Linked DNA regions of Homo sapiens. The gene in region 1 interacts genetically with each later gene. Each region holds a gene or a part of one and is shown on either strand. Other genes may lie near its edges.

Region 1 (4,894 bases):
GGCCGATAGATTCACTTCCTAACCTTATTTATCTCAACCTGGAATATGGAAAATGAAAGAGCTGATAGCAGTGGTATCATTTCCCTACCCACCCAGGGGAGTCTCAACTTGTGAAGACACAGCTCCAAATCCTTACCAGCCCCACTCCACTTGGTTCTGTCCTTGGCTCTTAGCCTATGCTGTCATATGGCATTCTGCTTCTTAGAGGGATTATATCTGAACTGGTATGAGATGTGCTTTGTGGAGCCAGGACAATAACTTTAGTATTAGACCACTCCTCTGCCACCCCAACTCCTCAGCTAGGTTATAAACTTCTTAAAGTTGGGAGTGTGGAGCTTCTTAGATTTTTGGATGCCCACTAAGTATGTTGCTTTACATACTGTAGGTGCTCAAGAAAAATAATGTGGGTGATGTTAGTGGCTAATCCCGAGAAAAACCCAAACCACAGTGACAGGAATAGGGGCCTCAAATTACCAAAAAATGAGGGACCAGACCAAATGTCGATGAGCAAACTGAACTTTAATTTGCTTACCTGAAAGGCTTGCTCTTCATTATTGGCATAGGCCACAGCTATTTACACAGAATCATTGTACAGGATTTACAGCAAGATGCTACACATAGCATCATTCTGGATAAGCGACAAAGGAGTAAGAACAGACTGGGGAATAAAGCTCTGAAATCAAAGTGTAAGCAGAAATCTGAAGGTAGGTGTACAAGGAAGGATAAGGGCCAAATGATGAGCGAGGTTGGTGAGGTAGACATAAGGGAGGAAGAGGAAACATCCAACAACTTGTGGTGCAGAGATATAAGGGAAGAGTCCACTGGCACATAGTCTTAAAAATTATGTTTGGAGTTTGAAGGAGGAAAAATCTGCCATAAGCCACCTCTGTGAGAAAAAAGAAGGCAGTTAGAACCTTACAGGCCAAACCTTATACCTCCCCTATCAAAAAGTAATTCTGCTGATTAAATCCCTGGATAGGAGAATGAGAAGGTTGAAAAAAGAAAGAGAGAGATGCATAGACACAGAACCTTAAACAGAGTTAAGAGACACAAAGTAAATATATTCAAGAGAGACACAAAGAAAGAGGAAAAGAACAGAAGCTCAGGCACATCTAGAAATTAGAGACATCCTATTAACTTCACGAGTCATCTTTCCTTACCTCATCTTCCCCAAAGCTCTTCCTCCACCCCTAAATCTCTGAATTTCTAACTTTAACCAAAGAGTAGAATTCGAATGAGGCTGGCACATGGGGGACGATCTAAGATTCCATCTCACCAATTCAGGTCCCCTCCTTATCCTGTACCGGAAGGTCAGGGCTTGAGTCGTAGCCAGGGATAGATTAGGGTGAGAATAGACAGGATGGAGGACACGAGGCCACAAAGCCCCACAATCCCAGGGCCACAGCGCCAGAGGCCTAGTTTGTCCAGAGGAATGAAGAGATCACAGGCATTTCTGACCACGTCTAGCAGAAGTGGGGGATGACCTCTAAGGACTCGAGCCAGGAGCAGGACTTGCAGCCGAAGTTTCAGAGCCAGTTGGGGCAGACCTCCTCCTGGAGTCCCTGGTCCCCCAAGTCCCCCAGTTTCACTTCCTCCTGGGACTCCTCCTCCAGAACCTTTCAGTCGCCGGCTACAAGCAGAAGACTCTTGCTCCATCAGTAGGCGAATCTCATAAGCATCACGGCTCAAATTCATGATGAGGGAAAACAAATAGTACCTGATACACAGAGCAAAAGGGTCAGTAAGGGCATGTATACCTACTTAACATATCCAACATCACATTTTAACATTTTCTTTTCCTGTAGCAAAGAGATTACACATTAGATCAGAAGTAAAGTGAATGCTATTACCCCTATTAGAAATGTCCTCCATCGAGGACACTATGCTAAGCAAAATAAGCCAGACACAGAAAGACAAATACTGCATAATCTCACTTATAGGTGGAAGCTAAAATAAGGCCGGGCGTGGTGGCTCATGCCTGTAATCCCAGCACTTTGGGAGGCCAAGGCAGGTGGATCACCTGAGGTCAGGAGTTTAAGACCAGCCTGGCCAACATGGTGAAACCCCGTCCCTACTAAAAATACAAAAATTGGCCAGTTGTGGTGGCCAGCACCTGTAATCCCAGCTACTTGGGAGGCTGAGGCATGAGAATTGCTTGAACCCAGGAAGCAGAGGTTGCAGTGAGCCGAGATCTCACCACTGCACTCCGGCCTGGGCAACAAAGCAAGACTCTGTCTCAAAAAAAAAAAAAAAAGGCTAACTCATAGGGGCACAGAATAGAATGGGGGTTGCCAGGGGTTGGGGAGTGAGGGAAATGGGAAGATACTGGTCAAAGCGTATAAGTTTCAGTTATGCAAGATGAGTAAGTTCTGGAGATCTAATGTACTACATTGTGACTATAGTTAACAATACTGTATTGTATATTTGAAATCTGCCAGGAAGGTAGATCTTAAGTGTTCTTACCATAAAAGAAAAAAGGTAATTATGTGAGGTGATGGATATGTTAATTAGCTTGACTGTGGTGATCATGTCACAACGTACATGTACAAACATCGAGCTATAACTCCTTAAATATATGTAATTTCTATTTGTCAATTATGTCCCAATAAAAATGAAGAAACAAAGTCCTCCCAACATTCTGTAACTAATACATGTTTATGTGCACCTTAAGATCCTGGTTTAAACTCCATGAGCATCATGAAATCTTCCAAGGTCAATCTCAAATTTCATTTTCCACTTGGCAACACACACACACACACACACACACACACACACACACTCTCCATCTCTCTCTCAACTTGACCTATAACAAGGCAAACTTGTTTTGAAAGAACAAATTTCAGATGTCTCAGAGACTCAAACATATTAAAGGTGATCTAAATCCAATCCCTATTCCTTTAGAGGCCCAGAGGTTTAAGTAATTGCCAAATGTGTTAAATTATAAATTTCTTCAGTAAAAAATCCATGTTTTTTATTTGTAATCCAATCTGACAATGGTGGTCTGTACTCAATAACTTGTACTACCTTCAAAGTATATCCTGAACCCAACCAACCACATCTCTCTATCACACCGCACTGCCATACTCTAAGCCACTAACATCTCTTGTCTGGACTTCTGCTTTAATGTTTTAACTGGTCTCACTGTGGCCATTGTTGCCCCCACCCCCAACAATCTATTTTCATATAATAGCTAGCATAAACATAAATCACATCATTACTTCCCTTCTTAAAACTCTCCATGGTTGGCCAGGCGTGGTGGCTCACGCCTATAATCCCAGCACTTCGGGAGGTGGAGGCAAGTGGATCATGAGGTCAGGAGTTGGAGACTAGCCTGACCAACGTGGTGAAACCCTGTCTCTACTAAAAATACAAAAATTAGCTGGGTGTGGTGGCGCGTGCCTGTAATCCCAGCTACTCAGGAGGCTGAGGCAGCAGAATCACTTGAACCCAAGAGATGGACGTTGCAGTGAGCTGAGATTGCACCATTGCGCTCCAGCCTGGGCGACAGAGCAAGACTCCATCTCAAAAAAAAAAAAAACCAAAAACAAATAAACAAACCACAGCTCTCCATGGTTTTCTTCCTGTCACATTCATAATAAAATATAAATACCTTAGAGAGGCTTACAGACTCAACATCTGGTCCCTACCCCTCTAACTTTACCTTGTATCATTCTTTCCTGCAATCATTATGCTCCAACCATGTTGGTTTCCTTCTACATTTTAATCCCATCAAGCTTGTTCTTGCCTTAGGACCTTTGCACTACCTATTCCCTCTACCTGGAATATTCTCCCTCCACCTGGAATATTCTCCCTCCAAAACCCTCACATAGCTAGCTCTTTCTTGCTCTTCAGGTATGAGCTTAAGTATCACCTCTTCGGAGACGCCTTCCCTTATCCCTAAATCTAAAGCACTGAGTCAGTTACTCTCTACTCCATAACACTGTTTTAATTTCCTGCATAACATTTACCAGTATCTGATATTTTAATTTATTGTTTATTTATGTTTATCTCATCCCATTACAAGGTAAGTTCCAGAGGAGCAGAGGCCTTGTTTGTCTTTTCTTTTTTTTTGAGACGGTATTTCACTGTTGTTGCCCAGGCTAGAGTACAATGGCACGATCTCGGCTCACCACAAACTCTGCCTCCCGGGTTCAAGCGATTCTCCTGCCTCAACCTCCCGAGTAGCTGGGATTACAGGCATGCGCCACCACACCCGGCTAATTTTGTATTTTTAGTAGAGACGGGGTTTCTCCATGCCGGTCAGGCTGGTCTCAAAACTCCTGACCTCAGGTGATCCGCCCGCCTTGGCCTCCCAAAGTGCTGGGATTACAGGCATGAGCCACCGCACCTGGCCGGCCTTGTTTATCTTTAACCACTGTATCCCTGTATGTACACTGGTGCCTACCATATAGTAAGAGCTCAGTAAGTATCTGTTGGATGAAATGAATAAATATAACATATAGACTCCTTTAGGGAGTTGCTTTTCCATACTGCTCCAGCCATGCCTCTGCTCCCACCCCTCATACATCATAAGCCATGTTAAAGTTGTAAATCACTGAGAAAGATGAAGGGAAAAGCAAGGTTAATATAATGAAAAAGTACAATCATAGGAAAACGAAAAACAATACAGATAATATGTTAGAGAATTTTACTCCCACATCATATTTCTCTCTACCTTTATTGTCAGCTACCTCCTTTGTCCAAGCCAACGTCATCTCTTGCTCGTATTAGGGCATCTCCTCCTCTCTTGACCCACTGCAATCCATTTTCTTTTCTTTTCTTTTCTTTTTTTTTTTTTTTTGAGATGGAGTCTTGCTCTTGTCACCTAGGCTGGAGTGCAATAGCACGATCTCGGCTCACTGCAACCTTTGCCTCCCGGGTTCAAGCGAGTCTC
Region 2 (8,023 bases), on another chromosome or scaffold:
TTTCTGGGGGTCAGAGGCCTGATGACAGCAGAAGAGTTAAAGAGATGCGACATTGCTGGCTTTGAAGAGGTTGGAAGGAGGTAACCAGCAAGGAATGCAGGGGGCCCCTAACAAAGGCAAGGAGGTGAATTCCCTGCTAGAGGCTTTAGGAGGGTTTGCAGCCCTGGTGACACCTTGATTTTAGTCCAGTGAGACCTGTGTGAGACTACTGAACTATAGAACTGTAAAACAATACTTTTTTTTTTTTTTTGACATGGAGTCTCACTGTGTTGCCCAGGCTGGAGTGCAGTGGCGTGATCTTGGCTCACTGCAAGCTCTGCCTCCCAGGTTCACGCCATTCTCCTGCCTCGGCCTCCCGGGTAGCTGGGACTACAGGTACCCGCCACCACGCCCGGTTAATTTTTTGTATTTTTACTAGAGACAGGGCTTCACCATGTTAGCCAGGATGGTCTCAATCTCCTGAACTCGTGATCCGCCCGCCTCGGCCTCCCAAAGTGCTGGGATTACAGAAGTGAGCCATTGCGCCTGGCCACATTTTTGTTGTTTTAAGCCACTAAAATTGTGGTAATTTGTTAAGGCAGCAATAGGGAACTAATATACTAGAGAAGCAAGGCAGAAACCAGGTTCCTAGGTTTCAGTTCCTCCCCAGTTCTCTCTGCCTCATCTGCTGTGAGACAGCTTGCTGAATGAGATCCCCTACACCCTCCCCCACAGCACACTCACCTCATTCCACAGGAGTAAACTGCGTGAGAGAATGAAATAGACGATGTAGTGATAAGATGTAGAGCTCTGATTCTGCCTGAGCTCCTAGTTCCAGTCATTTTTTTTTTTGAGGTGGAGTGTCACTGTGTCACCCAGGCTGGAATGCGGTGACGTGATTTTGGCTCACTGAAACTTCCGCCTCCCGGGTTCAAGCAATTCTCCTGCCTCAGCCTCCCGAGTGGCTGGGATTACAGGCTCTCACCACCACCCCCAGCTAATTTTTGTGTTTTTAGTAGAGACGAGGTTTCACCATGTTGGCCAGGCTGGTCTTGAACTCCTGACCCCAACTGATCCACCCATCTCGGCCTCCCAAAGTGCTTGGATTACAGGCTAGAGCCACTGCGCCCAGACATTCAGTCATTTTTGAGGCAAGTTAGCTCAGAATTAAATTTCTGTCCTTACAATTAGCTATCCTGCCTAAATCATAAAGCTATGGTGAGAGAGGGATGGTTGCAGGAGAAGAGGTGTTTTTTGTTGTTGTTGTTTTTTTTTTTTGAGATAGAGTCTCACTCTGTTGCCCAGGCTGTAGTGCAGTGGCGCGATCTTGGCTTGCTGCAACCTCTGCCTCCCAGGTTCAAACAATTCTCCTGCCTCAGCCTCCCCAGTAGCTAGGACTACAGGCGCGTGCCAGCACGCCTGGCTAATTTTTTGTATTTTTAGTAGAGACGGGGTTTCACCGTGTTAGCCAGGATGGTCTCCATCTCCTGACCTCGTGATCCACCCACTTCGGCCTCCCAAAGTGCTGGGATTACAGGTGTGAGGCACCGCACCTGGCCGAGAAGAGGTTTTTTTAAAGGCCTTTTGATATCCGATAATGGTTTAATGTGATTCCCACAGGAAGCCACTGAAGAACACATTATTCTTAGATGCACAAAGACTCTTTTTTGTGGGAAATCCATTTAGCCACTTATTAGTTAAATTGATTTCCCACAAACAAGAGTGTTCTGAACTTAAAACATGAAAGCCGAAATTGGTTTTTTTTCTTCTTTTTTTTTTTTTTTAGTTGGAGTTTTGCTCTTGCCGCCCAGGCTGGAGTGCAGTGGCGCGATCTCGGCTCACTGCAACCTCTGCCTCCCGGGTTCAAGCGATTCTCCTGCCTCAGCCTCCCGAGTAGCTGGGATTACAGGCACGCGCCACACCAGGCTAATTTTTTTTTTGTATTCTTAGTAGAGATGGGGTTTCACCATGTTTGTCAGGCTGGTCTTGAACTCCTGACCTCAGGTGACCCGCCCACCTCGGCCTTCCAAAGTGCTGGGATTACAGGCGTGAGCCACCGGGCCTGGCTCTTTTTTTTTTTTTTTTTTTTTGAGACGGAGTTTTGCTCCTGTTGCCAAGGCTGGAATGCAATGGTGCAATCTCGGCTCACCGCAACCTCTGCCTCCCGGGTTCAAGCAATTCTCCTGCCTCAGCCTCCCGAGTAGCTGGGATTACAGGCGTGCACCATCACGCCCAGCTAATTTTTGTATTTTTAGTAGAGATGGGGTTTCTCCATGTTGGTCAGGCTGGTCTTGAACTCCCGACATCAGGTGATATGCCCACCTTGGCCTCCTGAAGTACTGGGATTACAGGCATGAGCCACCGTGCCCGGCCTTCTGTTTTCTTTAGAAGAAAACAAAAGCTCCATCAACAGAGGGGTGAGAAGCAAAGTGGGTAATATCTGACTATTATGTAATATTATCTTTGGTAGAAAGTCAAGAGACTTGGAATAAAACTGTTTTTTGGAGTTCTGAAATTTTTGTCTTATTTTATCTCTGAAAAATTTTTTTTTTGAAAATAATCAAAGAGGAGATGTTCACAAAACCTGTCAAGATGCCAAAACACCACTAATGGATCTTTAGGTCTTGGCTTACTTCATCCATTTGTTCACAGATATTTATTAAGCACCTGCCATTTGTCCTGCTGAACAAATCAAGCATGTTCCCCGCAGCCATTGTGTACAGCTAAGCAGGTGAATGGCACCCACTGGAGTTGCGTAGTGCACAACTTCCACTACTGCTGGTGGTTCTTGTCCTCATGGAGATTAAATTTAGTAACTTCTAGGAAGTCTTTCTCGAATCTCTATCCTCTTGCTCAGACTGGAAAAAGTGCTCTTATTATGTTTTCTTTTCTCTTTTCTCTTTTTTTTTTTTTGACACAGGGCCTCACTCTGTCACTTAGGCTGGAGTGCGGTGGCACGATCACAGTTCACTGCAGTCCCCACCTCCCAAGCTTAGGTGATCCTCCTACTGCAGCCTCCCAAGTAGTTGGGGCCACAGGTATGCACCACCACGACAGGCAAGCTAATTTTTTTGTATTTTTTGTAGAGACTGGGTTTTGCCGTGTTGCCCAGGCTGGCCTTGAACTCCTGACCTCAAGTGATCTGCCCGTCTCCTGCCTCAGCCTCCTGAGTAGCTGGGATTACAGGAATGCACCACCACGCCCGGTTAATTTTTGTATTTTTAGTAGAGACGGGGTTTCTCCATGTTGGTCAGGCTGGTCTTGAACTCCTGACCTCAAGTGATCCGCCTGCCTTGGCCTCCCAAAGTGCTGGAATTACAGGCGTGAGCCACGGTGCCTGGCCTCTCCTCACCTGCTTTAATTCTTTACTCAAATGTCACCTTTTTACTTTGAGGTTTACTTTTACCTTTGGAGGTTTGGAGTAGAGGAGGGATACTATCTGTCTAAAAAGAAAAACAACATTTAGAAATATAACAGTATGGGCCGGGCATGGTGGCTCAGGCCTGTAATCCCAGGACTGTGGGAGGCCAAGATGGGCGGATCACTTGAGGTCAGGAGTTCGAGACCAGCCTGGCTAACATGGTGAAACCCCGCCCCCCACCCGTCTCTACTAAAAATACAAAAATTTTCCCAGGGTGGTGGCGGGTGCCTGTAATAACAGCTACTTGGGGGGCTGAGGCAGGAGAATCACTTCAGCCTGGGAGGAGGAGGCTGCAGTGAGCCGAGATTGCGCCACTGCATTCCAGCCTGGGCGACAGAGTCAGACTCTGTCTCAAAAAAAAAAAAGAACGGTATGAGCAAAGAGTGAGTAAGGCAGTTATCAGATGTCTACTTTGCCAGGAATCAGGCTACAGCAAATAAAGGTTTATACATAATATTGATAATAAATGCCCAGCTCTTCCCCTGTAAAACTCCAATACTCTAAGATTTTTTTCATGAACACCGCCCCCCGCTGCTCCGACCCCTGCTTTTTTATTTATTTATTTATTTATTTGGTAGAGATGAGGTCTCACTATGTTGACCAGGCTGGTCTCGAACTCCCAGCTCAAGCGATCCTCCTGCTTCTGCTTCCTAAAGTGCTGGGATTACACCGCGCTCGGTCCTGAACACACATTTTGTTTGTTTGTTTGTTTGTTTACAAAACCCCTGGAGAACCCGCGTATTCTAACCTGGGCTGGTTTTTGTATTTTTGCAAAATAACACCCCACACATTCTCGTATCAGCGTGCAGATTTTTTTGCACCCAGTTTGGTTGTTTGCGGCCATAAGCTTTTCTTTAAGCCTTTCCAACCCGTCCTTCTAGAGAAAGTGTCTTCATAAGGAAGTCACACTGCTCACGCCTGTAATCCCAACACTTTGGGAGGCCGAGGCGGGTGGATCACTAGGTCCGGAGATCGAGACCATCCTGGAAAACACAGTGAAACCCCGTCTCTACTAAAAATACAAAAAATTAGCCGGGCGTAGTGGTGGGTGCCTGTAGTCCCAGCTACTCCGAAGGCTGAGGCAGGAGAATGGCGTGAACCCGGGAGGCGGAATTTGCAGTGGGCCGAGATCGCGCCACTGCACTCCAGCCTGGGCGACAGAGTGAGACTCCGTCTCAAAAAAAAAAAAAAAATAAATAAATAAAAAATAAATAAAAGGAAGTGACACTGGATAATTAAGAGACACACCATTGCGCCTTTAACACATATTCACACCCAGCACTGTCACATCCATCGTGCCTTGAGGACAGGCATAAATTTACGGCCTTCCTCCTGCGCTCCCGGCCTGCTCCTAGCCTTTGACTAGAGCCTGCGCAGCATCCCAGTCCCAGGCTAGGGCCCACCGGTGCCGCGCAGCCTCCTGGAAGCTGTGGGGAGTAGCGTTCCTCCGCTCCAGAACTACAACTCCCAGCAGGCCTTGCTCCTCTCCACCTCCCTCGCAGCGCATGGCCTGCCGGGAGGGGGCAGGTAGCCGGCGGGCCCGGTCCAATGGGTGCCGGCTTCCGAGGAGAGGGCGGAGGAGAGGAGGAAGGAGGCGAACTGTGGGCCCCGGCCCCATTCATTGCCGTGGCCGGCGGGCACTGGGGCCCCGTGTTTTCAGAGTCATGGAGGCGCTAATTCCTGTCATAAACAAGCTCCAGGACGTCTTCAACACGGTGGGCGCCGACATCATCCAGCTGCCTCAAATCGTCGTAGTGGGAACGCAGGTGAGAGCAGCAGGCGGCGTTCGCTCGGGCCAGACCCCGGCCGCAGGCCTGGTCGGTGCTGCGGCAGTGCCCACTCCCGCGCCAGCGCCCACTCCCGCGCCAGCCTTTGGGGCCTGTGGGAGGAGGGCCTTGCTGGGGGCCCCAGGGCTCTCCGGGCTCTGCCGCACCCGCCCTCCCGGGGCAGCGTTGCATCAAGGCGGAGAATCCGGGGCCCGGCCAGGGGCGGAGCCGGCGCGGCGGGCCTGGCTAGCCCGGCGGGTCCCGGGGACAGGAGAGGGAAGGATGGGGCCGGCGGGCGGAACTGGAGTCCGCTGGGACCGGGCGCGGCCTCGTCCGCGTGCCGCTGCCTCCAAGGGCACCTGGGGGACGCGCGGGGCACTCGGGTCTCGCTGGGCTCGGTGGGCTGGCTGTTCCCATCACTGTTGGCTTTCGTGAGACGGGTGTTTTATTTCCCTCCTTGCCTTGCCCAGGGACTGCGGAGTTAGTTTTGGAATCGCTCTGTTGAGGCTGAGAGACGCTACGGTGCGTGAGCGCCAGTGTTTTCCTGCAGTATAATTCCACCAGGTTTCGAGAACGCCGAAGCAGCATTTTAAAAAAAGAAAAACAAAACGTGTATCTAGAGTTCTGCGGGTGTTGGGAAGGAATATCCGATTTTTCTGCGTAGGCTGTGCTTTTTGTCTTCCACAGTTTTGTGATCGTGACCTAAATTGGGCATCAGTTTCTCTGGTCTTCTCATAGCTAACTCATTTTTTTTTGAATGCAGAAATGTTGGCAAAATAACTGTTATTTCTAGAGTGACAGAGGAGAAGTATAATTTTCCTTTTCTCTGCTACTTCGATTAGAGTTCAGAGAAACGGATTTTAGAAATTAGTATATTGATATTAAGTGCTTTCATTTCTTAATAGTATCTTTTCTATTGAGAAGGAGCGGTTTCCCCATCATTTTCCAGGAGGTACATAGTATAGGGTATAAGTGCTATCAGAAGGAACTTACTGTTCAAAGTATTAGTGGCTATCCAAACACTGGAAACTATAGACACCCTGTACTCGTTTGTTTGTTTGTTTGTTTTTTTGGCTTTTAAATAGTTGAAGCAATAGAAATTGTTTTAGAAACACATTTCCTTGGTCTGCGATAGGATTGGGAAAGATTCTGCTCAATCTTGCCTACGTATTCTAGTATTTGTAACAATATTTGTAATGTTTGGAGACTCAGAAGCATCAAACAAATTACGAGGATTATTTTTTATTGAACATAATTTTGTTCAGTCTGGGACATATAGTAAGTGCTCTGTAAATATTTTGAGTAAATATTGCTCACTCTAACCACAATGTTTTAAAACACTGGGACTTTTATCATCAAAACTAACCTGTTTTTGTAAAAAGTTAGAGATAATATAAATTAAGTCTTTGATAGTAAGTGATTCAGAAGTGTCTTCTAGCTGCACACTAGAAACTTTCCACATACTTTTAAAAGAGAGTCTCAGTGCTTTTTAAGCATGAGGAAGTAAAAGAATTAGGGATATAGTGTGTCAGCATAAATAGTTTAAAATCAATAAGTTGTTTTTTTCTTTTTACACAAAATAGAGTTTATTTTGGTCAGTAAACCTGTTGGCAAAATACAGAGTGGCAGGAGAGAAAAGTAAAGATCCCATCCTTCTGAAAGCCATTAACATGTGCAAAAACCATCCTAGTACTGACAGTTATATGCTATATTTGCATGTTGGTGTTTGAAATTTCTCAAGAGGTCAGTTTTTCTACTTGATTTAATGAGGGTTATTTCCATCTAAGTTCTTATTAGCTGATAATCAGTCTTTTACTCAAGTACAGAAGAAATACAGAATAGAAATTATCCGAGGTAGGCAGATCACTTGATTCCAGGAGTTCAAGACCAGCCTGGGCAACGTGGGGAAACTCCATCTTTACGAAAAATACGAAAATTAGCTGGGCATGGTGGTGCGAACCTGTAGTCCCAGCTACTCTGCAGGCTGAGGTGGGAGGATCACCTGAGCCTGGGAGGTTGAGGCTGTGGTGCGTGCAGGAGTGCATGTCACTGCACCCCAGCAGAAAGAGAGAGAATAGAAACTATTTTCTCCCCACACCGCCCCCCCCGCCCCTATTTTCTCCCCACACCGCCCCCCCGCCCCCGCCTTTTTTGTAGTGTGTTGGGGAAACAAGAATCTCTTCTTGGTTTGAATACTAGTATACCATTACTTTGTGATGTCTGCCATTTTTACTCTTTGGTGTTGTGTAACATATATGTATACCTCACATTTATATTTAATGAAGTAATTGTAGTGAGTGAGTTCCAGACATATAAGTGTTCTGTACTTAGTTCTGCCTAGTATACCTATCGGCAGTAATTGTGTCTTCAGAATACAGGTATAAATTAGCCAGGTGCTATGGTGTGTAGTGTGTGCCGGTAGTCCCAGCTACTTGGGAAGATTGCCTGAGTCCAGGAGTTTGAGGCTGCAGTGAGCTATGATTCTGCGATGGCACTCCAGCCTGGGCGACAGAGTGAGACCCTGATTCTTCCAAAAAAAAATTAAAAAACAACTTCAAGTGTAGTCTCTATCCTACATATTATCCATACCTTAAATGGCTTCAGTTTCTATCTTGTTGAACTTTTTGGAACAGTGATTCTCAGACTTGAGTGTGTATTAAGAATCACTTTGGTTTTTTTTTTTTGAGACCGAGTTTCGCTCTTGTTGCCCAGGCTAGAGTGCAGTGCCATGATCTTGGTTCACTGCAACCTCTGCCTCCCGGCTTCAAGTGATTCTCCTGCCTCAGCCTCCCACATAGCTGGGATTACAGGCATGCACCACCACGCCCGGCTAATTTTGTATTTTTAGTAGAGACAG

Evidence for each region.
Region 2: of PEX11B (region 1) and DNM1L, changing one enhances a phenotype caused by changing the other (phenotypic enhancement), as found in Homo sapiens cells (one study listed by BioGRID).

Annotation. Positions count from the first base shown.
Region 1 is NC_000001.11:145,910,850-145,915,743, forward strand, and holds the end of PEX11B (peroxisomal membrane protein 11B), read right to left. Parts: intron 1,718-4,894; coding exon 1,312-1,717; 3' UTR 501-1,311; downstream 1-500. UniProt on the Homo sapiens protein: Involved in peroxisomal proliferation. May regulate peroxisome division by recruiting the dynamin-related GTPase DNM1L to the peroxisomal membrane. Promotes membrane protrusion and elongation on the peroxisomal surface.
Region 2 is NC_000012.12:32,674,300-32,682,322, forward strand, and holds the start of DNM1L (dynamin-1-like protein), read left to right. Parts: upstream 1-5,001; 5' UTR 5,002-5,064; coding exon 5,065-5,166; intron 5,167-8,023. UniProt on the Homo sapiens protein: Functions in mitochondrial and peroxisomal division.